Homo sapiens: one gene and its partners. The protein of the gene in region 1 purifies or fractionates together with the protein of each later gene. This does not show direct contact. Each region holds a gene or a part of one and is shown in the gene's direction. Other genes may lie near its edges. The genes, in order: KCNJ5, MTMR6, LANCL2, GNB4 and ERI3.

The links.
Region 2: the proteins of KCNJ5 (region 1) and MTMR6 purify together in Homo sapiens (affinity purification with mass spectrometry; 2 studies listed by BioGRID and IntAct, with this or other methods). This does not show direct contact.
Region 3: the proteins of KCNJ5 (region 1) and LANCL2 purify together in Homo sapiens (affinity purification with mass spectrometry; 2 studies listed by BioGRID and IntAct, with this or other methods). This does not show direct contact.
Region 4: the proteins of KCNJ5 (region 1) and GNB4 purify together in Homo sapiens (affinity purification with mass spectrometry; one large-scale study listed by BioGRID and IntAct). This does not show direct contact.
Region 5: the proteins of KCNJ5 (region 1) and ERI3 purify together in Homo sapiens (affinity purification with mass spectrometry; 2 studies listed by BioGRID and IntAct, with this or other methods). This does not show direct contact.

The regions. Positions count from the first base shown.
Region 1 is NC_000011.10:128,911,150-128,915,674, forward strand, and holds part of KCNJ5 (G protein-activated inward rectifier potassium channel 4), read left to right. Parts: intron 1-114; 5' UTR 115-124; coding exon 125-1,061; intron 1,062-4,525. UniProt on the Homo sapiens protein: Inward rectifier potassium channels are characterized by a greater tendency to allow potassium to flow into the cell rather than out of it.
Region 2 is NC_000013.11:25,280,427-25,284,951, reverse strand, and holds part of MTMR6 (phosphatidylinositol-3,5-bisphosphate 3-phosphatase MTMR6), read left to right. Parts: intron 1-4,525. UniProt on the Homo sapiens protein: Lipid phosphatase that specifically dephosphorylates the D-3 position of phosphatidylinositol 3-phosphate and phosphatidylinositol 3,5-bisphosphate, generating phosphatidylinositol and phosphatidylinositol 5-phosphate.
Region 3 is NC_000007.14:55,368,215-55,372,739, forward strand, and holds part of LANCL2 (lanC-like protein 2), read left to right. Parts: intron 1-4,525. UniProt on the Homo sapiens protein: Necessary for abscisic acid (ABA) binding on the cell membrane and activation of the ABA signaling pathway in granulocytes.
Region 4 is NC_000003.12:179,416,294-179,420,818, reverse strand, and holds part of GNB4 (guanine nucleotide-binding protein subunit beta-4), read left to right. Parts: intron 1-1,313; coding exon 1,314-1,420; intron 1,421-4,262; coding exon 4,263-4,326; intron 4,327-4,525. UniProt on the Homo sapiens protein: Guanine nucleotide-binding proteins (G proteins) are involved as a modulator or transducer in various transmembrane signaling systems.
Region 5 is NC_000001.11:44,337,546-44,342,070, reverse strand, and holds part of ERI3 (ERI1 exoribonuclease 3), read left to right. Parts: intron 1-2,748; coding exon 2,749-3,026; intron 3,027-4,525.

The DNA.
Region 1 (4,525 bases):
CCTGGATAACAGAAGAGAAGCCTGGGAGAGCCCCGGGGTGGGGGTGGCCTTCCATCTTGTGTTCTAGTGAATCAGAACAGCCCACTTCACTGATGGTGTCTTTTTAACTCAAAGCATCCCAGCTATGGCTGGCGATTCTAGGAATGCCATGAACCAGGACATGGAGATTGGAGTCACTCCCTGGGACCCCAAGAAGATTCCAAAACAGGCCCGCGATTATGTCCCCATTGCCACAGACCGTACGCGCCTGCTGGCCGAGGGCAAGAAGCCACGCCAGCGCTACATGGAGAAGAGTGGCAAGTGCAACGTGCACCACGGCAACGTCCAGGAGACCTACCGGTACCTGAGTGACCTCTTCACCACCCTGGTGGACCTCAAGTGGCGCTTCAACTTGCTCGTCTTCACCATGGTTTACACTGTCACCTGGCTGTTCTTCGGCTTCATTTGGTGGCTCATTGCTTATATCCGGGGTGACCTGGACCATGTTGGCGACCAAGAGTGGATTCCTTGTGTTGAAAACCTCAGTGGCTTCGTGTCCGCTTTCCTGTTCTCCATTGAGACCGAAACAACCATTGGGTATGGCTTCCGAGTCATCACAGAGAAGTGTCCAGAGGGGATTATACTCCTCTTGGTCCAGGCCATCCTGGGCTCCATCGTCAATGCCTTCATGGTGGGGTGCATGTTTGTCAAGATCAGCCAGCCCAAGAAGAGAGCGGAGACCCTCATGTTTTCCAACAACGCAGTCATCTCCATGCGGGACGAGAAGCTGTGCCTCATGTTCCGGGTGGGCGACCTCCGCAACTCCCACATCGTGGAGGCCTCCATCCGGGCCAAGCTCATCAAGTCCCGGCAGACCAAAGAGGGGGAGTTCATCCCCCTGAACCAGACAGACATCAACGTGGGCTTTGACACGGGCGACGACCGCCTCTTCCTTGTGTCTCCTCTGATCATCTCCCATGAGATCAACCAGAAGAGCCCTTTCTGGGAGATGTCTCAGGCTCAGCTGCATCAGGAAGAGTTTGAAGTTGTGGTCATTCTAGAAGGGATGGTGGAAGCCACAGGTAAGGCGCTTTGTCCTCCTCAGCCACAGGTGGCCCTACCTACACTTCAGACTTAGGCAACTGTGACTCCAGAAGATGCAGGTCTGTGCCTGAGAGTCCTGGGGTGGCGCAGGCAACACATTCAATCCCTAAATTGTGGTTTGAGGGGTACTGGTACTCAAGATTGAGTAATAGCAATAGCTAACACTGACAGGAACTTCCCAACTTTCAGGCACTGTCCTAAACAATAAACATCTATCATCTGGCCAAATGTCCTCCCACGCCCTATGAGATATAGTGGGTTATTGTTGTTGTTGTTTTGTTTATTTGTTTATTTTTGAGGCAGGGTCTTGCTCTGTCACCCAGGCTAGAGTGCAGTGGCCCGATCTCGGCTCACTGCAACCTCCACCTCCCGGATTCAAGCGATTCTCCTGCCCCAGCCTCTGGAGTAGCTGGGATTACAGGTGCCCGCCACTGCGCCTGGCTAATTTTTGTATTTTTAGTAGAGACAGGGTTTCACCATGTCGGCCAGGTTGGTGTCGAACTCCTGACCTTGTGATCCACCTGCCTCGGCCTCCCAAAGTGCTGGGATTACACGCGTGAGCCACAGTGCCCAGCCAAGATAGTTTTTATTAAGGTACAGATAAAGACACAGGGACACAGACAGGCTAAATTATTTGCCCAAGAGCAAGCACTTTCGAATGATAGAGCTAGGATGGAAATTGAGACCAGGGACCCCAGAGCCAGCACTTGTTTCCAACAGGACAAACTGCCCCTTCTTGGAACAAGTGTTCTACCCAGAAGAGCTCCCTGGTCAGATAGCTCTGGTAATCACAGGGCGAAACAAAAGCGAACTGGTTTCTTTACAGTGGACTTCTCGCTGTCCTTACCCACTGAGTCTCATCACTGGGAGAGGAGGGGATGCAGAATTTCCTAAACTCAAAAGGTTCTCACCAACCCCTTACTTGGAGAGACCTTTGCTGCAGGGGAAGGGCTTTTGTGGCTGGGCTCCCTCTGGGGCAGCCAGCCCTCAGCATTCTTGCAGAAGGTTGGTTTAGTGAACGCAGGGCAGGTGAGGCTCCTTTCTCACAAAAAAACAGTGCATCCATGCTGAGGCATCAACATCCATGTATGCCCAAGAAAATGCCCTTTGTGTGGCCAGCATGGCACCTCCCTGCTCAGCTACTGACTCACCAGCAGCTGGTAGCCAAGGACCCCCCAGTTCCTCAGCCACTCAGCCATGGCAGACCTCTGTGAGGTGGCTCCAGGGAGTCCAAGGCCTGGGACCGCCTGAACTCTGGCAGAGGACCCTAGTCCCCACCCCACTCGCAGCAAAACCCCACATCCTGCATATTTCATTTCTTCCTCGTGCCTTCCTTTCTCTCTCTCTCTCTTTTTTTTTTCAACCAGGTACAATGAGCAGCTGGTCAGGCCCTAAGGATGGGTTCTAGAAACTCAGTCACGCTCAGAATGATGCATGTCTATTTTTCCAATTCTTGCAAATGACAGTGTAGGGCTGGCTTCAGTCTCATTTTACAGATGTCGAGGCTGAACCTAAAAAGCATTATGTAGACAGTGAGTGTTCATATTCAGCTCTTCCACTTACAAATCTGGAGCTTCTCTCACCACTCTGCCCCACTAAAATACTAGCGGCCTGTCAGGAAGATGGCCAAGCACACATTCCAGCCCCCAGGAAGCTGGCTGCCGGGCAGGGGACTCAGACCCAGACTGCACAAGCCTTCCCATTTTGAAGTTGGTGGAACCAGGAGAGGGCAATGACAAGCTCCAGGGACTGGTGCCAGAGGTGGCTGCTCGGCCATCTGCTGGGGGCTGGAGTCTGGCAGGCAGCATATGGTGGCAGGTGGGCAGCCCCGGGGCCGAGGACAGTCAGGACTCAGGAAGGTTTCCCCCACAGAGCTAGGGGCTTGCAGGTCACCCTGCCCTTGCCTCCAGGGTCAGAATCAGGACACAGGCTGCATTTCAGGGGAAGAACTCCACTCTGAAGCCACAAAAAAGGGATTGGGTGAGAGACATGGGGTCAAATCATAGCACACCTGACCACTCTCCAAGGCCATCCTCACTCCCCAGCCATGCAGCAGGGAGAGCGCCCACAGGCTCGTAGTGGAGGGAGCCAGTGCTATCTGCCCCGCTGCCCCGCTGCACCCCCAACCACACCTCCCTCAAAGTCAGGGGCCCGCCATTCACTTGTCCTCACGGTTTGGCCTCCTTCCCCTCCCACAACCCGGGCTATGCTTGCTCTGTCCCACAAACTGTAGGGGAGATCCAGGGAGATAGGGCAGGAGACCCTGGCCCACATCTGTCCTGGATGTGGGTGGTTTGGTTGTCAAGCACATGCAGCCAGGTGTGGGCTGGGAATCCATGCCTCAGCTTGAGTAGCACAACTCTGCCGTATCCTGCCTGAGCGGGTTTGAGCAAGCTGCTTACCTTGTCAGCAAAGTGAGGAAAATCAATCTCTTAGGGCTGTTGGGAGGATTCAAGATGAAAAGGAGCTGTGCTGATCACTATACCTGACACCTGGGGAATCCTTTCCAAACGTATTGAGCAATGACAGGGACACACCAGGATCTCTAGCTACAGGGCAGCCGCTGCCACACCCCATGAGGAGCAGGAGGATCCCAAAGGGGAAAGGTCCTGCCCATACCTTTCCCAAGGCCCTGGGAGGCTGCAGACGTCTGGCATGGTCTAGGCTGCTCAGGGCCCGGTTTGGGCCTCTCTGCCAAGGCTGTGGGGACAACAAGGGTAACGACTGAAGGGAGAGGCCCGGCCCAGGCAGGCATCACTGAGAGCAGAGAGCAGGCTGTGGGCGCACCTGTGTGGGTGCGCTGGGGCTGAGAAGCAGCCTTGGACCTGGGTCTGCTTTGTATGAGCCCCTCCCAGAGAAAGCCCAAAGTGGGAGCTGGAGACGGTTGCCTTCAGCACCCAACCAACACAGTTAATGCCTTCCTTGGCCAGAAGATTAAATATCAGAAAGCTGCTTTCCTGTGACCCTAAGCACAGAGGCCTCCTCATCCATAAACAAAGCTGCCCTCCTCTCTGGAGAGAAAGCAACACCTAAAAATAGCATAGGCATGGCACGGGCTGAGTAGACAGGGAAACGAGGCATTGGAGCAGCCTCAAATCAAGAAGCCAAGCTCTGTGTGTGCGTCTGCTCCTCTTCCTGTGTGTATGTGTGTGTGTATGTGAGTGTGGAGCCCTCTCTCCGTATGTGTCCGCCCAAAACAATCCCCATATGTTCCAAATGCCTGTCAGATTCTCCGTGTTCATTCATGCTGAATTTATCTTTGCCCTTTCCTGCCTTTTTTCCCATCTTAATCTTCTAGACCTGAATGCTGTTTTCAGGAACGGAGTCCCTACCTTCAACTATTCCAACATCTATTCACTCCAATCTCTAGGAAATGACTTTCAGAATCTTGCATGTCGATTTCTAATTTTCTGCCACCACTACGCCTTGAACTCCTCCAGGG
Region 2 (4,525 bases), on another chromosome or scaffold:
ACTCTGGAGTAATATTAAGTGAGTGTATGTAGACCGCAAATAAATATTTTCTAGGTACCTAGTATGTGCCAGACACTGTATTGACACTGGGTATATAACAGCAAGATAGAGGTGGACCTCAGGGTACATTCTGTTAATTGTTGTGGGGACTGTAACATGTTCTTAAATTATTAATGTATTGGGAAATAACTTACTTTTAAAAGATTGGTTTGAACATAGCCAAACTTTTGTTTCCATTATGCATAGCCTTCACCTGGATTTAGTTAGTTTGCTGCAAAAATAAGTGTAAGTATTTAAAAAGCAAAAGTGGATTGTTTTAGATTTATTAGCTGTTTTGACCTCTATGTAGTTTAGTCATTAGGATCAAAATTGACCGTAGAGTGTCCTTTATGACTATTTAGTGATTTTTGTTGTTCAGTCAGCTCTATTTGAAAAGTAATAATTACCATTTATTGAGCAACTATATGTCAATATAGCCAATTATACAATATTATTACTTTATAATATGTACAATTGTATAAATCTGTTAATTTATACATTATCATCACTGATCTCTTAAATAACCCTGTCAGTTGGGTAGTATTATCTCCATTTATAGGTGAGGAGGAAATAGGCTTAGAGAATTTAAGTAACCTGCTCAATTAGTTCACAAGAGATAGAATTAGTATTTAAACTAAGGTGTGTTTAACTCCAAAGACTATGTATGCTCTTTCCAGTGCCTCTCTAGTTTTAATCTAATTGTTAAATGTGCATTAGTATTAATTCAGAAATAAATGCTGATGATAATTCTAAGAGCTTCCCCCCCAAACCTCTTTTTGTCATAAATAAATAATATTTATGCGGTATTGTTTTTAAATAATATTTAGGATCATTATTGCTTGCTAACCAGAGATTTATCAGATTAAGTATTTTAGCTGAATACTAATGAACATATTTATCATTCTGTTTTGGTCACATTTGGTTTACTAACTGTATAGCATCAAAGATGCCAAGTCCCTGAATCTGGATTTCTGAAAGAGCATTTCCAAGCTACACTTATGAATCATGCAGCTACTACCTATCGCTTTGAGCTCTCATTTTGCCATAATGACATAGTCCTGCCAAGAAACAATGAGAAATATGCAGAGACAGTTCTTTATGCAGTCTTTCTCCTTTCCCTGCCAGTACTTTGGCTGACATTATATATTGATGTCAAATGATATTGTCTTACCTGTGAATGGAACTTTACTGAATGGAATGGAAGAACCTTTTTTAAGCTATAAATGAAAGGCTGATTGCTAGCGTTTGTAATCAAATGGAATGTCCCATAAAAATCTGATCCTACTAAGGCCCAAATTGAGTTATTCCAAAAGTTATGCCTAACATGTTCTTTAGCTTGCTCCCTCTTTTTGTCATTAGAATGTGAGATCATCTATGTATGTATACAAATATACCTTCCCTCTGAAAGAAGAAAGGAGATATAAAAATAAGAATGGATCAAGAATAAGGAGAAACTGATATTATTTAAATTGTCTTTGAAATAAAAGCCAATAGGTTTTGAGGAGCACCTGAATGCTTTTTTCCAAGTAAAGTGTTGTTTTGATTTTCACTAATACTATCCCATTTTACAGGTGAGGAAACTGAAACCCTGAGAGAATTAATAAAATAACTTGTCCTGGCTCACACAGTTAGTTCTACCAAAGAAGAGGTGGAGGTGGGAACTTGAATGTAGGTCTTTCTGATAGCAAGCCTATTCTCTTAACCACACTCTCTTGCCTCACAGAATAATAATCTAATCAAGAGATTTGATTAGTCAGTTGGGGCAGTGTGAGTAAGAACAGAGAGGAGGGGTGGATAGAAGAAGCTTAGGTGGTCAGATTTTTTTCTAGTAGCTAGCTGAATGTGAGGATCTAGTGTGAGGGAAAAGGTCTGGCCTTGAGTAGATTTGGGAGGGAGTTGTTTGTGTTTAGGTAAATCATTGAAATTTCTATTGTGAATGAGTTTATGCAAGGAGAATATGTTGAGACTCTGTGGAGAAAAGTCTAAACACTTAAAAAGGGACAAGCAGGCCGGGCATGGTGGTTCACACCTGTAATCCTAGCACTTTGGGAGGTCGAGGCAGTAGGATCACTTGAGGTCAGGAGTTTGAAACCAGCCTGGCCAACATGGTGAAACCCTGTCTTACTAAAAATACAAAAAATTAGCTGGGCATGGTGGCGGGCACCTGTAATCCCAGCTACTTGGGTGGCTGAGGCATGATAATCACTTGAACCCAGAAGATGGAGATTGCAGTGAGCCGAGATCGTGCCACGGCATCCAGCCTGGGTCACAGAGCAGCACTCTGTCTCAAAAAAAAAAAAAGAAAAAAGAAAAAAGAAAAAAGAAGAGGGCGAGCAAGCAGAGGAGGAGAAGCCGGATGCATTTGGAAGAGGTGAAGCACAGATGGGAAGGTGACAGTCTTCCGTGTTCTAATTTCCTTCTCTGCTCCATCCTCTGGCTGCTTCCTCCTCCTTGGGCCAGGCACTGTTCTAGGTTCAGACAAAAACTCCTGCCCTTATAACTTATCTAGTTGGAGAAGAGGTAACAATAAACAAAATTAAGTTCAATGTATTGTATGTTAGATGGTGGTAAATGCTGTGGATAAAAATAAAGCAAGCCAGGGCTCTGAAGAGTATGAGGGTTGAGGAGGGGGTTTAAGGGAGGACTGCTATAAATTGAGTGGTTAGGGAAGCTCTTACAGAGAAGGTGACTCTTGAGTATAAACCTGAAACTGGTGAGGGAGTAAGCCATCCCCACATGGGGGATGGCGGGGAGAGTCCCAACAAAGGGAACAACAGGGGCAAAAACCCTTTGAGGGCATGCCTGGTTGCTAAGAACAAGCAAGACAGCTAGAGCAGGGTGAGTGAAGAAGAGCACAGTAGAAGATTAAAGTTGGGGGACAGGGGCAAGTTACTGTAGTCTTGAAGGCCACTGTAAAATCTTTGCTTTTTTTGAGTGAGATAGGAAGCCATTGATGGAATAAGCAAAGTAAGAAAAAACTGAAAAGTGCCCACTGGATTTACGATCTGAGGTTACTCTCTCCCCTCTTGAGGTCCATGACTGTTTCATTTGATAATTTATGCAGCCAGACACTGTTCTAGAAATTGGGATACATGAACAGAAACCATAATCTCTGCCCTCCACTTCCTGCACACAACTTGATGTGCTTTCTTTTTGAAAGCTAATTCTTGGCAGGATGTCAGTGTGAAATGATTCTGAGAGTCCTAGATGAGTGCCTGGCTATAGGGAAGGAGTGCGACAAGCCAGAGGAACAGTGATGGTGCACTTTCTGCTTCAGTAGCCACAGCGTCTATTGTTATGTAGTTGTAGAATAAGTACAACTGTTGGTCACAGAAGTCTGAAGAAGGCCATTGGTCCCTTCCTGTCCCAGAGGCCACTTTTTCCTCAGGGATAAAGAGGTGTCTGAATTTTCTGAATGTGATTCTGTTTGTGTGACTCCCTGTGTTTTTCATTTGGAATCTTTTCTTCTTTTTTTTCTTTTCTCTTCCTTTCCTTCCTTTTCCTTTCCTCTTTTCTCTTTCCCCTTTCCTTTCTCCTTTCTTCTTTGTCCTTTCTCCTGTCTTTCTCCTTTCCTTTCCAACAAGATCTTGCTCTGTCACCTAGGCTGGAGTGCAGTGGTATGATCATAACTCATTGCAGCCTCTACCTCCTGGGCTCAAACGATCCTCCTGCCTTTACCTCCCAAGTAGCTGGGTCTGCAGGAGCATGCCACCATGCCTGGCTAATTAGAAAATAATTTTCTTTTTCTGTAGAGATGAGGGTGTCACTATGTTGCTCAGACTGGTTCTCAGACTCCTGGTCTCAAGCAATCCTCCTGCCTTGGCCTCCCAAAGTGTTGGGATTACAAGCGTAAGCTACTACACCTGTAGTGGCCCCAACATTTTCTGAGTGTGATTCTGTATGTGTGGGGTTCTCTGTGTTTTCCAGTTCTAATTTTATAATTGGCTGAAATTTGAACTTTCTGCCTGGACCATTAGGGTACCTTTTAGTGCAGGCCCATAGTTGGCAACAATTCAACTAAATAGTCCTTAAAGTAATGTGTGTTGGCATTTACCATTCCTCACCAAAGCGACATCTTCCAATTCCTTTCTCCTTGCCACATTTTCGTTTTTCGTTTGTTCTTTCTTTTCCCAAAGTCTTTTTTTCTTTTTTTTCATTTACTTTTTGGCTGTGATGATACCTATAATTTAAGGATCCTAATAGTTTCTTAGTACTTCAGTGTTAGTGACCAGAAAGAATTGTAGTTGCTTCCTAAACATCTGACTTAATACATTTCCAAGAACAGACTGGGGAAAATCTGTAGCAACATCTGTAAAATACTTTTAGTTCCTTGCTGAAAGGGGGAAATATAAAGAAGCAGTTGGTTTTTAGAAGTTGACTAAGTCTGTGGTTTGAAATTTGTATGCCAATGATTTTAGCAAAGAAAAACATTTGATTTCCCCTCCTTAGGGGTGAGGGGTGGGATTTGCCACAAAGAGCAAAATAA
Region 3 (4,525 bases), on another chromosome or scaffold:
TTTGAAATTGGGTATTTTTCTTTTTAGCCTTTGTATCTGGATAAATGTGATTTTTGACCTCAGTTATATACCTGATTTATGTTGAAAAGAAAATTAGACTACAAGTAACTAATGGGGCTTGTGATATCTCTGCAATGAAATGTAAGTTGGGGTGGGGACCTATGCCAGTGGTTGTGAGTATATGCTAAAGAAAGAAATGGACATCATATTATTCTTGAATATGAAAATGAGAGCACGTTGAAGGGAGAGATGGATAGTGATTTTAAAAGGTGGAAAGATTGCTTCTTGGTTATTGGAAAGTCATCAGATAAAATGAATATGAGTTGAACACTGTCTTCCCTATTAATATTTTTTATGATTGACATTAAATTTTTGGTTTTAAAAATCTGTTAAGAATGCAATTTGAGGATATCACACTATGCACTGTTTTTGATAGACATGAAATTTCATGAAAATGAGGGTGTTATGGGTTGAATTGTGTCCCCCACCAGAAAAAAAGGTATTGAAGGTTGAAGTCCTAACCCATTGGAACCTCAGAATGTGACATTTGGAAATAAGGTCATGGCAGATGTAATTAAGATGATGTAATACTGGAATATGATGGGCCCCTAATCCAATATGACTGGTGTTCTTATATGAAGAAAAGAGAAGCAGGTATGATGGCTCATGCCTGTAATACCAGCACTTTGGGAGGTTGAGGCAGGAGGATCACTTGAGGGCAGGAGTTCAAGACTAGCCTGGGCAACATAGTGAGACCCTGTCTCTTTTTTAAAAAGAATTGTAAAAGAGAAGAAAGAGACATAGGGAGAAAGAAGATGGCCATGTGATGATGGAGGCAGAGATTGGAATTGCCAGCCAACACCAGAAACTAGGAGAGGCAAGGAAGGATTCTCCTCTGTAAGTTTGACAGAGAGCATGGCCCTGTTGATACGTTGATTTTGGGGCTGTAGGCTCCAGAACTATGAGAAAATAAATTTATGTGGTTTTAAGCCACCCAGTTTGTTGAACTTTGTGGTATCCCTAGGGTAACTTGTTAATTTGTAAGTTAAGCATTGAATAATTTTCTCTCCATGATGTTACCGAGTAATGATTACAAAAATCTACCAACACAATAACATTTTATTACTAAGTATTCTTTAAGTCATTCACTCTATCTCATTTTAGTTTGGCTGCCTAGGTATGTGGTGTGATCAGTCAATAAAATTATCCTCTGATTCTAAAACCACTCAAGTCGGCTTCTCTGGGCCATATTTCCATAAATTGGTATTTATAACATTTTTTACAATATTGGGCCAATATTATGAAAAGCAGTGAACCAGTGTAGTAGCAGTTGTTTTTAATTATGGAAAGCCTGTGACGCAGACACTCTTAGTTACTCATCTAACAGCCATTTCCTCCTTTTTACTTGATTTTGTTGTGGCCGTGGACTTAAGGGGAATTGAGCCCAGCTCTAGGAGCTGAATCATGATTAATGTCTTTGACCAGCAGCAGCAGCAGCTTCAACTGATGTTCAAGTCCAACCAGGAGATGGGTACCATGCAGAGTTTAATAGGGAAAGTTTAACTTAAAGAATTGTTATGAACTGTGAGACTGGAGTAACAAGAGATTGTCTCATGAGAAGGAAAGAGAACTCTGAAGAGTGTAGGAATAGCAGACAGAAGGAGCAGCCCCACCCCTAGGGCTGAGAGGGCACTCGAGTAAAGGCCCCTGTGATTAGCTCTGTTGCTGTGTAATAATTATCCCAACACTTAGCATCTTTATAAACACTTACGATCTCATGCAGTGTCTGAGAGTCAGGAATCCAGCTGCAGGTTAGCTGGGTGGTTCTGGCTCACGGTCTCTGGAGAAGCTGCACTCAAGCTCTGAACCAGGGCTTCTGTCATTTTGAGGCTTAACTGGGAGAGAGAATCTGCTCCAGGCTCATTCACATGGTGGTTAGTCGGCCTTGCTATGTGTTTTCTGGAGGCTTCAGTGTCTAACCACATGGGCTGCTCCTTAGGGCTGCCTCATGACATAGTGGCTGTCTTCCCTGAGACTGAGTGATCAAAGAGAAAAGTATGCAAGAGCACCCAAGATGGAAGCTGCAGTCATTGTATTTATTATGTAATCTCAGAAGTGACATACCATCACACCTGCCATATTGTATTCTATTAGAAGCAAGACAGTAAATCCAGCCCACGCTCAAGTGGAGGGGTTATACAGGAGCATAAATACCATGAACTGTAGAGTCCTCAGCCAGGGCTGAAATCTTGAACTTGTCAGAGAGGTCATTGCCATACCTCATTGGTTGGGAGAGAAATTGCTGTGATACTGCACCATTGCTAGGTGTAGCCTCCAGAACCCTGCAATGAGTATTACAGTAAGTGACAATATGTAAAGAATATCTTGGGGGCACAAGAGAAGAAAGAAGACGTGTTAATTCTGCCCATTCGCATCAGGGAAGGCTTTTTAGACTAAAATGATACTTTCATGGTCCTTGAAAGATTAAGTGGGGGTTTTCTAGGCTCAGTTAGGGAACTCCATGAGCAAGGACTTAAGGGATACCACATTATGAGAATATCAAGGAGTACGGCATGACTGGAGAAGAGGGAGCGTGAATGGCACTGGGGAGTATTGAGGCCGAAGACAGTGATTGGAGTTGATGCTGAAGGACTTGATGGATTGGAAGGATTCTTTTAAAATGAAATTTAAAATTGTATATTTAAGGTATACCACATGGTGTTATGTGATACATATAGGTAGTAAAATGGTTTCTATAGAGAGGCAAATTAATATATTCCCAATGTCACATAATTACCCATTGTTTTTTCTGTGGCCAGAGCTGCTGAAATCTATTCACTTAGCGTGAATCCCACATCCAGTGCATTTTTATTACCTGTAGTTTTCATGTTGTGCCTTAGAGCTCTAGACTTGTTTGTCCTGCATATCTTCCATTTTGTATCCTCTGACCATTTCCTCTCCTTCCTTCAACCCACTGCCTCCGGTAATAACTGTTTTGTTCTCTATCTCTGTATAGTTTTGGGTTTTGTTTTGTTTTTTTTCGAGACAGGGTCTCACTCTGTTGTAGGCTGGAATGCAGTGGCATGATTGTGGCTCCCTCCCGAGCTCAAATTATCCTCCCACCACAGCTGCCTGAGTAGCTGGGACCACAGACAGGTACCACCATGCCCAACTAGTTTTTGTATTTTTTGTAGAGACAGGGTTTTACCATGTTGCCCAGGCTGGTCTCAAACTTCTGGGCTCAAGGAATTTTTCCCAGCTCATATGCTGCTGTTTCATTTTAAGAATTGTTTCCTTTGCTGTGCAGAAGCTTTTTAATTTGATATAGTAATATTTGTTTATTTCTGCTTTTGTGCCATGAGCTTTTGGTGTCATACCAAAAAATTATTGCTATGGCCGGTGTCCAGGAGCTTTTCCCCATGTTCTCTTGTAGGAGTTTTATAGTTTCTGGTCAATCCAAAGGACTTTACAACTTTTTCCACAGAAAAAAATCAGGAAAACTTGTCTGTAATTTGATACAATCTTAAGCTATTGGAAATGCTTCAGTTTATAATTATTTAATTTTCCATATTTTTGTTTTGAAGCTTTAAAATTTGTTTAACCTCATAATATATCATGGAAGCATAAGGAAATCAGTACTACCCTAATACCCAGAGAAATGTAATTTTTTTCTCTTTATTCAAAATGAACTAAATTGTGTGTGTGTGTGTGTGTCAGGTGGAAGGTGGGGTAATATACTCTACAACTTCTCAGAGTGAGGTTTGTGGACCTAAATCATAAGCAGTTCCTCAAAGATTGTTAGAAATGCAGATCCCACTCCAAACCCAAGGAACCACAGTCTGCATTTTAACAAGATCCTCATGCCAGAGTACTCATAAATTTGAGAAGCATTGAGGAAAACTGTTCTACATGTAGCTTTATTAAATTTTCTTTTAATATGAACTTAATTAACCTCCAGCCAGTTTTCAGTTCCTGATGTGGAAAGATATTGACGTGGAAGGGTAATGGTAAGATTATGGAGAGGGAACTAAGAAGATATTATACATGAGCATTTTCCATCTTTTGGAAATAAATTGTAGCATAGAGCAGGTAACAGTTTTAATAGTCTTGTGTTTGACTCCTACTTTTCTGCCATTTATGACTTGTAGACTTTGAGCAAGTTATTTAACCACACACTGAACCTTGGTTTTCTTACCTCATCAACTTGATGTAAATGGTTAAATTGAAAGGCTAACTGAGGTTCTTAATATAACATAGTTGTAATATAACGTATTTGCTAAAGCTTTTAATAATGTAGATGTAATATAACCACCCCCTCCTCACTGGATTGTTATAATGGCTAATTAGGTTAATACATTTAAAACATTCAGAACGGTGCTGAGTACAGTTAGTACCTAGGTACACATAGTTACTGATACATAGGTGAATAGTAAGAGTTGAGTTAATGATAGCTATTAGCATTATTATAGACATAGCTTATTTGTATTAGAGTATAAAATGTGATAATGAAAAATTTGTTTACATT
Region 4 (4,525 bases), on another chromosome or scaffold:
TCAGATTCTTGTATTAGTGCTTAATTGAAAAAAGTTAAATGAAATCTCTGTGTAAAAGCACTTCGTAATTTGTCAAATGCTATACAGTGCGAGTGCTTTTTAAAATATATTGTTAAAATAGACATCTATGGAAAAATAAATGCTATAAAAATATACCAGCTATACCAACATGGTAAAACCTCATCTCTACTAAAAATAAAAAAAATTAGCTGGGCATAATCCCAGCTAGTCGGGAGGTTGAGGCAGGAGAATTACTTGAACCCAGGAGGCAGAGGTTGCAGTGAGCTGAGATCGCACCATTGTACTCCAGCCTGGGCGAGAAGAGTGAGACGCCGTCTCAAAAAAAAATATATATATATATATGTATATATATTTTCAAGGCCAAGCATGGTGGCTCATGTCTGTAATCCCAGTACTTTGGGAGGCCGAGGTGGGAGGATCACTTGAGGTCAAGAGTTTGAGGCCAGCCTGGCCAACATGGTGAAACCCTGTCTCTACTAGAAAAAAAAAAAAAACATGAAAGTTAGCTGGTCATGGTGGTGCCTGCCTGTAATCCCAGCTACTTGGTAGGCTGAGGCAGGATAATCGCTTGAACCTGGGAGGCAGATATTGCAATGAGCCGAGATCCCTACTGCATTCCAGCCCAGGAGACAAAGTGAGACTCTGTCTCGAAAAAAAAAAAATTATATATATTTATGTATGTATATATATATGTATGTATAGATTCATATAGTTTATGCTTCTTTTTAAATAGTTTCTGATTCTTTTTGGTATACCCTGATTAAGTGTTTTTTTCCTTATGAAAACTCTTAGGTTGGGAATGAGATAGTAAGAGGGGTCAAGAAGACTAATATTTTTAAAAAATCTTGGGAAGGCTTCATGTTTAATTAATATTGATCATTATTATTAAGGAAGTATTTTATGTGCTCTACAAATATAAAATTGGCTTTCTTACAGTTAAAATTGTAAATGTTTACTGTGATCATTTGCCTCTAGATTTTTATTTGTGGCTGGTTTTTTACTAAAGCATAGAGGTATATCTATTCTTTTTAGTTAATAGTCTGCAGAAGGCATTCTTATTATACATTTATGTATATTATTTATAACAGCACATAGGATTATTTTAAACTAATCATAATTTTCAGGAACATATTGATCCCATAACGGCTCTGTGGAATTATATACATTAAATTACCTTCAGTTACTATAAATGTACTTTATGTTTGCTTTTTTAACTCCTCACTGTTTCTAGTTCAAGTTATCTCATGAACTATGATTAAGGTAAAGAATAACATTTTTGTTGCTTTCAAAAGATTACATCAAATATGGACTCTGTGGGTCGAATACAAATGCGAACAAGACGTACACTGAGGGGCCACCTAGCTAAAATCTATGCTATGCATTGGGGATACGATTCCAGGTTTGTACCTGTCATTACCTGTCATTTTTAAACTGTTGCAGAATTATTTTCATTAAGAACCATCATTTGCATTTTCTTTGTTTAAAAACAGAATATATTCATGAAGCGTTTGCAGAAAATGCATCTCAGATGAACATGCTGCTTTCAATAAGAATATTAATTGACTCTTTAAAAGTATAAACATTTTTAATATGGAATCCAGGACAACTGTTCAGAAGAGGATTCCTTTTCTTTGCAGTGGAACATTGCAGACATTCTTTGTTTTTTAAATAGGCACAAAGCGTTTTTACTGTATATGAAGCTTGAAATTTCAGTTCATAAGCAAATACGTATTGAACACCTATGTGCAAGTTTTTGGATATTGCTATAGTTTGTTATTACATAAATTCGCAAATAATGGAAATTACATGAAACAAAGGTGTTTGTACTGAATACATCTTTTACTCCCTCGACTGCATCACAGAAAGGTGTGTGCTTGAATGTGCAAGCTGACCATCTGCAGGTGCACAGGCACACGCACAGCTGCTACGTGGCCTACAGTTAGATAGATTGCTCATCACTGTCATTCACTATGTGTATAAGGCTACAGCACAGCCTATGTTTTTCCATTGTCTGGCAATAGCAGATGTGTCTGCTATCACAGTGGTTTACTTGTTCCTTTGATTTGGTTAATCTTAATGGGAAATGCCTAAACCAAGAAACTTCTATGTTTTAATAGAAGTTGCACATTTATTCTCTTCTCCCAGGAGACACTAAAATTATAAAGTAGAAGAAGCCTCAATTGTTGCTCTAATTGGGATACTTGACCACAATAATATAGAACATGTGCCTCTTACGAAGGGATACATAAAATTATATAATTGGCAACTGACATAATGTCTTAATCTTTTTCTTTTTCTTTTCTTTTTTCTTTTTTTTTTTTTTTTTTGAGACAGAGTTTCACTCTTGTTGCCCAGGCTGGAGTACAATGGTGTGGTATCGGCTCACTGCAACCTCTGCCTCCCAGGTTCAAGGGATTTTCCTGCTTCAGCCTCCCAAGTAGCTGGGATTACAGACATCCACAACCACGCCTGACTAATTTTTGTATTTTTAGTAGAGAGGGGGTTTCACCATGTTAGCCAGCCTGGTCTTGAACTCCTGACCTCAGGTGATCCAACCGCCTCAGCCTCCCAAAGTGCTGGGATTAATCAGGTGTGAGCCACCGCGCCTGGCCGAATGTCTTATTCTTTTTCTTAAAGGAGTTGAAGATAAAAATAATTTACCTGTTGATAAAGCAAAATTTTAACTTAAAATATAGTAACTTGAAACAATGTTTATGGTTCTTGCTTTCCTTAAACGTTTTCTGAAGACTGTTAATCTTCATAGAAAAATGAAACCATCATCCAGGAACCTATCTCACATAGTCTTCCCACCCATCCGTGTTATCAATCCATTACTTAATGTTCTCCTCAACTCTTATGCTGATGATGCCAATTGATTTCTAAAGAATTTTCTTTAGATGCCATCCTATACCCCACTATCAGATAGATCTTCCCTTTTGTAAAACCTTGTAGTGATTGCTACCCAAGAATCTGATAATGTTATTTACCTCTAGGGAAAGGAACTGGGTGGCTGATGATAGGCCCAGGAAGGTGCTTTTTAAATTTTCTTCTGTATATCCTTTTTTATTTTTTGAATTTTACACCATGGTGAAAAGTAAAAATTCCAAACAAGGCTGGGCATGGTGGCTCATGCCTGTAATCCCAGAACTTTGGGAGGCCAAGCGAGTGGATCACTTGAGGTCAAGAGTTCAAGACCAGCCTGACCAACATGTTGAGATCCCATCTTACCAGTCGTGGTGGTGCACACCTGTTATGCCAGCTATTCGGGAGGCTGAGGCAGGAGAATCACTTGAACCTGAGAGGCGGAGGTTGCAGTGGGCTGAGATCGTGCCATTGCACTCTAACCTGGGTGTCACAGTGAGTGTCTGTCTCAAAAAAAAAAAAAAAATCCAAACAAAACAAAAAATTTAGTGGCTAAAATTACTTAGGAGTTCATACTCTTTAGTTTAACAAAGCTTTCTGCAGTTTAAGCCCAGTCTGCTTTTCTCAACTTATTTTTCCATTTTCTCACAAACTGTACTACTGGAAGACCCACAATTCCTGAAACAACACTCAGTGTATTTTTCTACCTGTCATTGATCTTACATAGCTTTCTCCTAAAATACAGCCTTTTCTGTATCTTTAGCTCTCAACATTTTCTTTCAAGACTCATTCTCTTGTGATTAACTCATCTAGCCATTGTTCCTCCTTTACTCTCCTGTGGCATTTATTTTATACCCCTCTTCTGACAGTTTTTACTTACTTGATTTAATATAAATATGAGTAAATGTCTTATCTTCACCAGATGGTAGAGGCCTCAAGAGCAGGCGATGTATCCTGCGTTGTACCTCTAGTATTGTCATATTCTCAGGCTCTCAATTGGTGTTTTTAGATTGGATGAAATATGGTTGTTAGGCTTCTATGTACATTCTTGTCATGAAATTTAAGTAAGTCAGTAAGTACTAAACCAGTCAGCTAATATCCACCCAAATCTTGTATAACTAAGATGTTGTTACCACAAAAATGTTTAATCATAGCCAGACATTTTTAGTCAGTTGCTAAATTTTATTTTATGAAATATGTTCAAGATTTTTGGCATGCAGCATAAATTTTTTAAAAGTTGGAAGAACATTTTTTGGTATCAAGTTTTTAGTTGGAAAAATTGTATTTTTCTGAATTATTCTACATTAATGCAATGCATAACCAATTTAAGCTATTTTTTCCCTCTAAGTGTCAAATTATTTTTGTGTTTGTTCCTCTAGGCTGCTAGTCAGTGCTTCTCAAGATGGAAAATTAATTATTTGGGATAGCTATACAACAAATAAGGTAGAATTTCTTCATAATTCTTTTAAATAACCTTATATTTGTTTGGCTGTTCACCAGTTCTTTCCTTTATTCTTTTACCTCAAACTTAAATTGCTTTCTGAGATAAATTTATTGTTTATTTTAATCTAGTTCTTCTCTTTTGTCTTAGTGTTTACTTTTAATGTTTAACCCTTTTTCATTTCCAAAGATGACTCTATGT
Region 5 (4,525 bases), on another chromosome or scaffold:
AGGAAGGGAAGAGGAAGAGCTACCCTCTGTTTCTTGACTTGAACTGAGCTTGGTTGTTAGAAGTAAGGGAAGTGTGGAATCCAGTAACTGCTGATATGTGGAGGCCTGACCTCCTAATGTCTACTCTCAAGACTTCCTACGAGAGAAGTTTTTTTGTTTTGTTTTGTTTTGTTTTGTTTTTGAATTATGGTCTTGCTCTGTCACCCAGACTGGAGTGCAGTGGCTCCATCACAGCTCACTGTAGCCTCAACCTCCTGGGCTCAAGTGATCTTCCTACTTCAGCCTACCAAGTAGCTGGGACTACAGGCATGCAGCACCCCGCCTGGCTAATTTTTAATTTATTTTTTGTAGAGATTGGGTCTCACTATGTTTCCCAGGCTGGTTTCGAACTCCTGGGCTCAAGCAATACTTCTGCCTCAGCCTCCCACAGTGCTGGGATTACAGGTGCAGTCACTGTGCTTGGCCAAAAGAAGCTTTTTGATGTAGATGAAATCAGGTGAGAAAGCAAGGCCTGCAGGCAAGAGGACCACTGGCCATCAGAATAGGGTATATATAGTATGCTCTGTCAGAGGTCTGGAGCATTTTAGGGTTGCAGAAGACATCGATATTACTCTCTGAGGCTGCCTTATGAATTAATTGGATTTGTAGGCCCAGAATCTGGGGATCCAGGCTTGGCCAGGTGGGCATAGCCCAATAGGATAGTAGTAATAACATTAGGATAATATATATTAGGCTGTTATATGCCAGGCACTGGTCTTAGTGCTTTACATGTGTTGTCTCATTTTGTTCTCACTTAAGGAGTAGGTGCTATTGTTATTGTCATTTTACAGATGAGGAATTGAAGAACACAGCATGCCCAAGGTGCCATGGGTAGTAAGTGGTAAAGCTAGGATTCAAACTTGGAAGCCCTCCTTACTCATCATGCTTAATTGCTTATAGTATTTGGTAGACAGGATTGACTGACTGTATATACTACGCATATTCTGTGCACACTGTAGAACATTAGGACTTTCAGAAGTCTTTACACTTTTTTATGGGGTTAGAGAAGAGTCTAAGTCCTTGAGGGACTTTGGATCCAAACTAGAATGGGTAATTTGAGCAGACTGGTGTCTTCCATCTCATTAAGGCTTCCAGTACTATTCAGGAATAGGCGATGAGAAGATTCTGGCTTTCAAAGGGATATTGGCCCTCTTGCCCTTCCAGGAGACTCCATATTGAAACTCAAGCCAGCGTTTGTCTACCTGGGCTGAGTTTTGGCTGTATTTTTGGTGAGGCTATAAAGCAGTGGTGAAAACAAGTGCTGTGCTTGTGCAGGATCCATGAAGAACTTAAAATATTTTTTGGTCTTAGCTCCACTGAATCCCCCTGAAATCTCATTATAGGGATAGGGAAATTGAGGACCTACACTAGCGTATATCCTACTATATATATAGGCAAGTTACTGTAGCTCATTCAGTGAGTCAGGAGAGAGATGGGAAGACAGCCATACTTGGCATTATCTGCTTCTGTTCAGGTGGTAGTGGCCTCATTGCCTTTGAGTACGCGCTGGACTTCACAGGGTGCTATCCCTCTACCCTATGTGAAGGGAGCCAGGTGCCCACTTGCAGCCATCAGAGGCAAGCCTTTGGTTGTGTTGGAATGAGGCTTCGGAAAGCACAAACTATGGCCATTACTGTATTGTACAGTGAGATTTCTTATTTGAGGATTAAAGTTGAGAGAAATTTGAATGTTGAGTATTAAAGGGAGAAAGACAACATTTCTGCTTTGTTCCTTTTTTCTTTTTAAGGAAGTTTGAGTTATTCGTGAGTAAAACTTAGGCTTTGATTTTTGTATTTAGTTAGGCCTCTGAGGAGCAGGCATTCTGCAAATTTAAGGGGAAAACTTAAAGGAAAAGTGATTTGATTTTTTTTTTTTTTTTTTTGCACATGTTCACTCAGAAAACTTTACTAGACTTTTAGCCATGTTCCTATTACTGCCACATCTGGGTTTTCTTTTTCTTCCCTATTTAAAAAGTCCCGCAGTCATTCAGGGCCTCGAGTAGAGACCGAGTCTAAGGCAGCAAATGAGAAGGCCTAAGGCTGCAGCCAGCTGTGCTCTCCAGGCACTGTTCATTCCCCCAGGGTGCCACTTACTAGTGTGGGGGTTGGGGGATCACCAGAATGTCAGAGCAAACCCCTGTGATTCGCTTTGTTTGCCTTCACCTTGGGAGAGGGGAGGAGGGTATGTGGAGACATCAAGATACAGACTGGAAAGCCAGGGGCAAATGGCTCCTAGTGGAGCTGAGAAAAGAACCTTGGACATTTTCTGCTGCTTGTCTGAGTCTACTTAGCTTCCAGGACTCATTGTACAACAGGGTCACCTCACGTTACTTTGGACCCATAGCTTTAATGTTAACTGTTGCCACCTGAGAAGTGACTGCACAATTTTTCTCTCTTCTCTCTTTTGAACTTTAGAGCTCCATTTAAAGATGCAGGCCAGTGTTGCATGTTGTTTTGAGAATGATCTGGGAGACTCAGAGCTGTAATAATGCTGCAGGTGCTGCTATTAGGGTCTTGAACTTTAGTAACGAATACTATGATTTAGAAAAGGGGCCCAGAAACACTGGGGAGTGGCCCATGTTGCGTGGATATTCCTGAAGACTAGATGGAACAGGGCCACAGTGGGAGGGAGTAACCCAGGCTCTCTGTTCTTTTTTTTTTTTTCTTTCTTTTCTTTTTTTTTTTTTTTTTTAAACTTTCCTCCCCTAAGTTTTAGATGCTTCTGGATGTTCAATGCTAGCACCTTTACAGACTGGAGCAGCTCGATTTTCTTCGTATTTACTTTCAAGAGCAAGAAAAGTGCTGGGCTCCCACTTATTTTCTCCCTGTGGTGTTCCGGAGTTCTGCTCCATATCCACCAGAAAGCTGGCGGCCCACGGCTTTGGCGCATCCATGGCGGCAATGGTGTCCTTCCCTCCCCAGAGGTATCACTACTTTTTAGTGCTGGACTTTGAGGCCACGTGCGACAAGCCACAGATTCATCCTCAGGTAACTGTTCCATCATTGCTTTAGAAAAGGTGGGGGGGGCAAGGAGGGAGGGAGGATAGTTTTGCTTCCTGGGACACAAAGGAGCTTTCTCATGCCTTCCTGTCTTTTAGCTACTCATTTAGAGTTCCTGTCTAGGAAGCAGGACTTGTTTCAGGTATGCTAGTGTAAGGTAGACCTGAGAAGTCTCTGGAGAGAACTGGGTACATTGTTTCTCTCTAGTCTCAGCTTTTGGGAATCAAAATATTTCCTTCTCCCGTCCTTCCTTTCTCTGTTCTCTTCTTTCCTCCATTCTCCTGCTACTGCCACTTGTTCCTTTAAGGAGTGCTATAGTAGCTGGCCTCCAAGATGACCTCAATGATTCTTAACTCCTGCTATTCACACCCTTGGTAGTTCCCCTCCTGCACTGAATCAAAGATATTCCTGTATAGCTAATAGAATACAGTGGAAGAGATAATGTACGACTTCTGAGGGTAAGTTATAAAAAGTATTGCAGTCCACTTTGCTCTTTTGGACCACTTGCTCTGGGGGAAGCCAGCTGTCATGCTGCCAGGACACTCAAGCAGCCCTGTGGAGAGGCACATGTGTGTAGGAACTGAGGCTCTTAGCCAAAATCCAGTGCCCAACTTGCCAGTCATGAGAATGAGCTATCTTAGAAGTGAATCTACCAGCCCCGGTCAGGCCTTCAGATGACTGCAGCCCCGGTGGACATGTGACTTCAACCTTAGGAGGGACTTTGAGCCAGACCAGCCAGCTAAGCCACTCTCAAATTCCTGACTCACAGGAACTGTGAGGGATAACAAATGATTATTGATGTTTTAAGCCACAGGTTTTGGGATGATTTGTTATGCAGCATTAGATAACCTGAGCAAGTACCATTGTTGGTCTGTTGGAAAGGACAATTTCTTTGCTTGCTTTTTTTCATTAGTCACCAGCTGTGTTCAAAGACCTTTTAGCTTTTAAGTTAATGCTGCTAGGAGGCTTGGATTAGCTGCAGGTGATATTGAAGTATGTGGTGTTTGCTTTGAGGGAATGATTGGGGGCTGATGTAGCAGTTCATTGTAGTGTTGGTGCATTGAATATGTCTGGCTCTAGGACTGTAACTCTTCTCTATAGGGTTAGGTTATAGAGTGTGTGATGCATAGACATGTTGCTCTGGGAACAGCTTTCAATCGTAAGGAGGAGGGAGAGAAGGGGACCTCAGCATCGGGCACTTCGAAGGTAGGGAGGAGTGTGGTCCATTTAAAGATAAACTGGGTTTGTCTGTCATGGTTGGTTTTTTCAGGAAGGGATCTGTCTTCAAAATGGTAAATTATTTTACATAAAGCAGGTATGACAACCTCTAGTGTTCCCTTTCTCCTCTCCTCTTTCCTATACTCCCTTAATGCATTGGTCTGCCTTTGAGGCACTGGAATGAGGCCTACTGAGGGCTGGGAACCCAGGAGCTGGATAAGGAGAATATCCTAAAGGAAGGTCCTTTGGGTGTAAGGGAATGCAGCTTG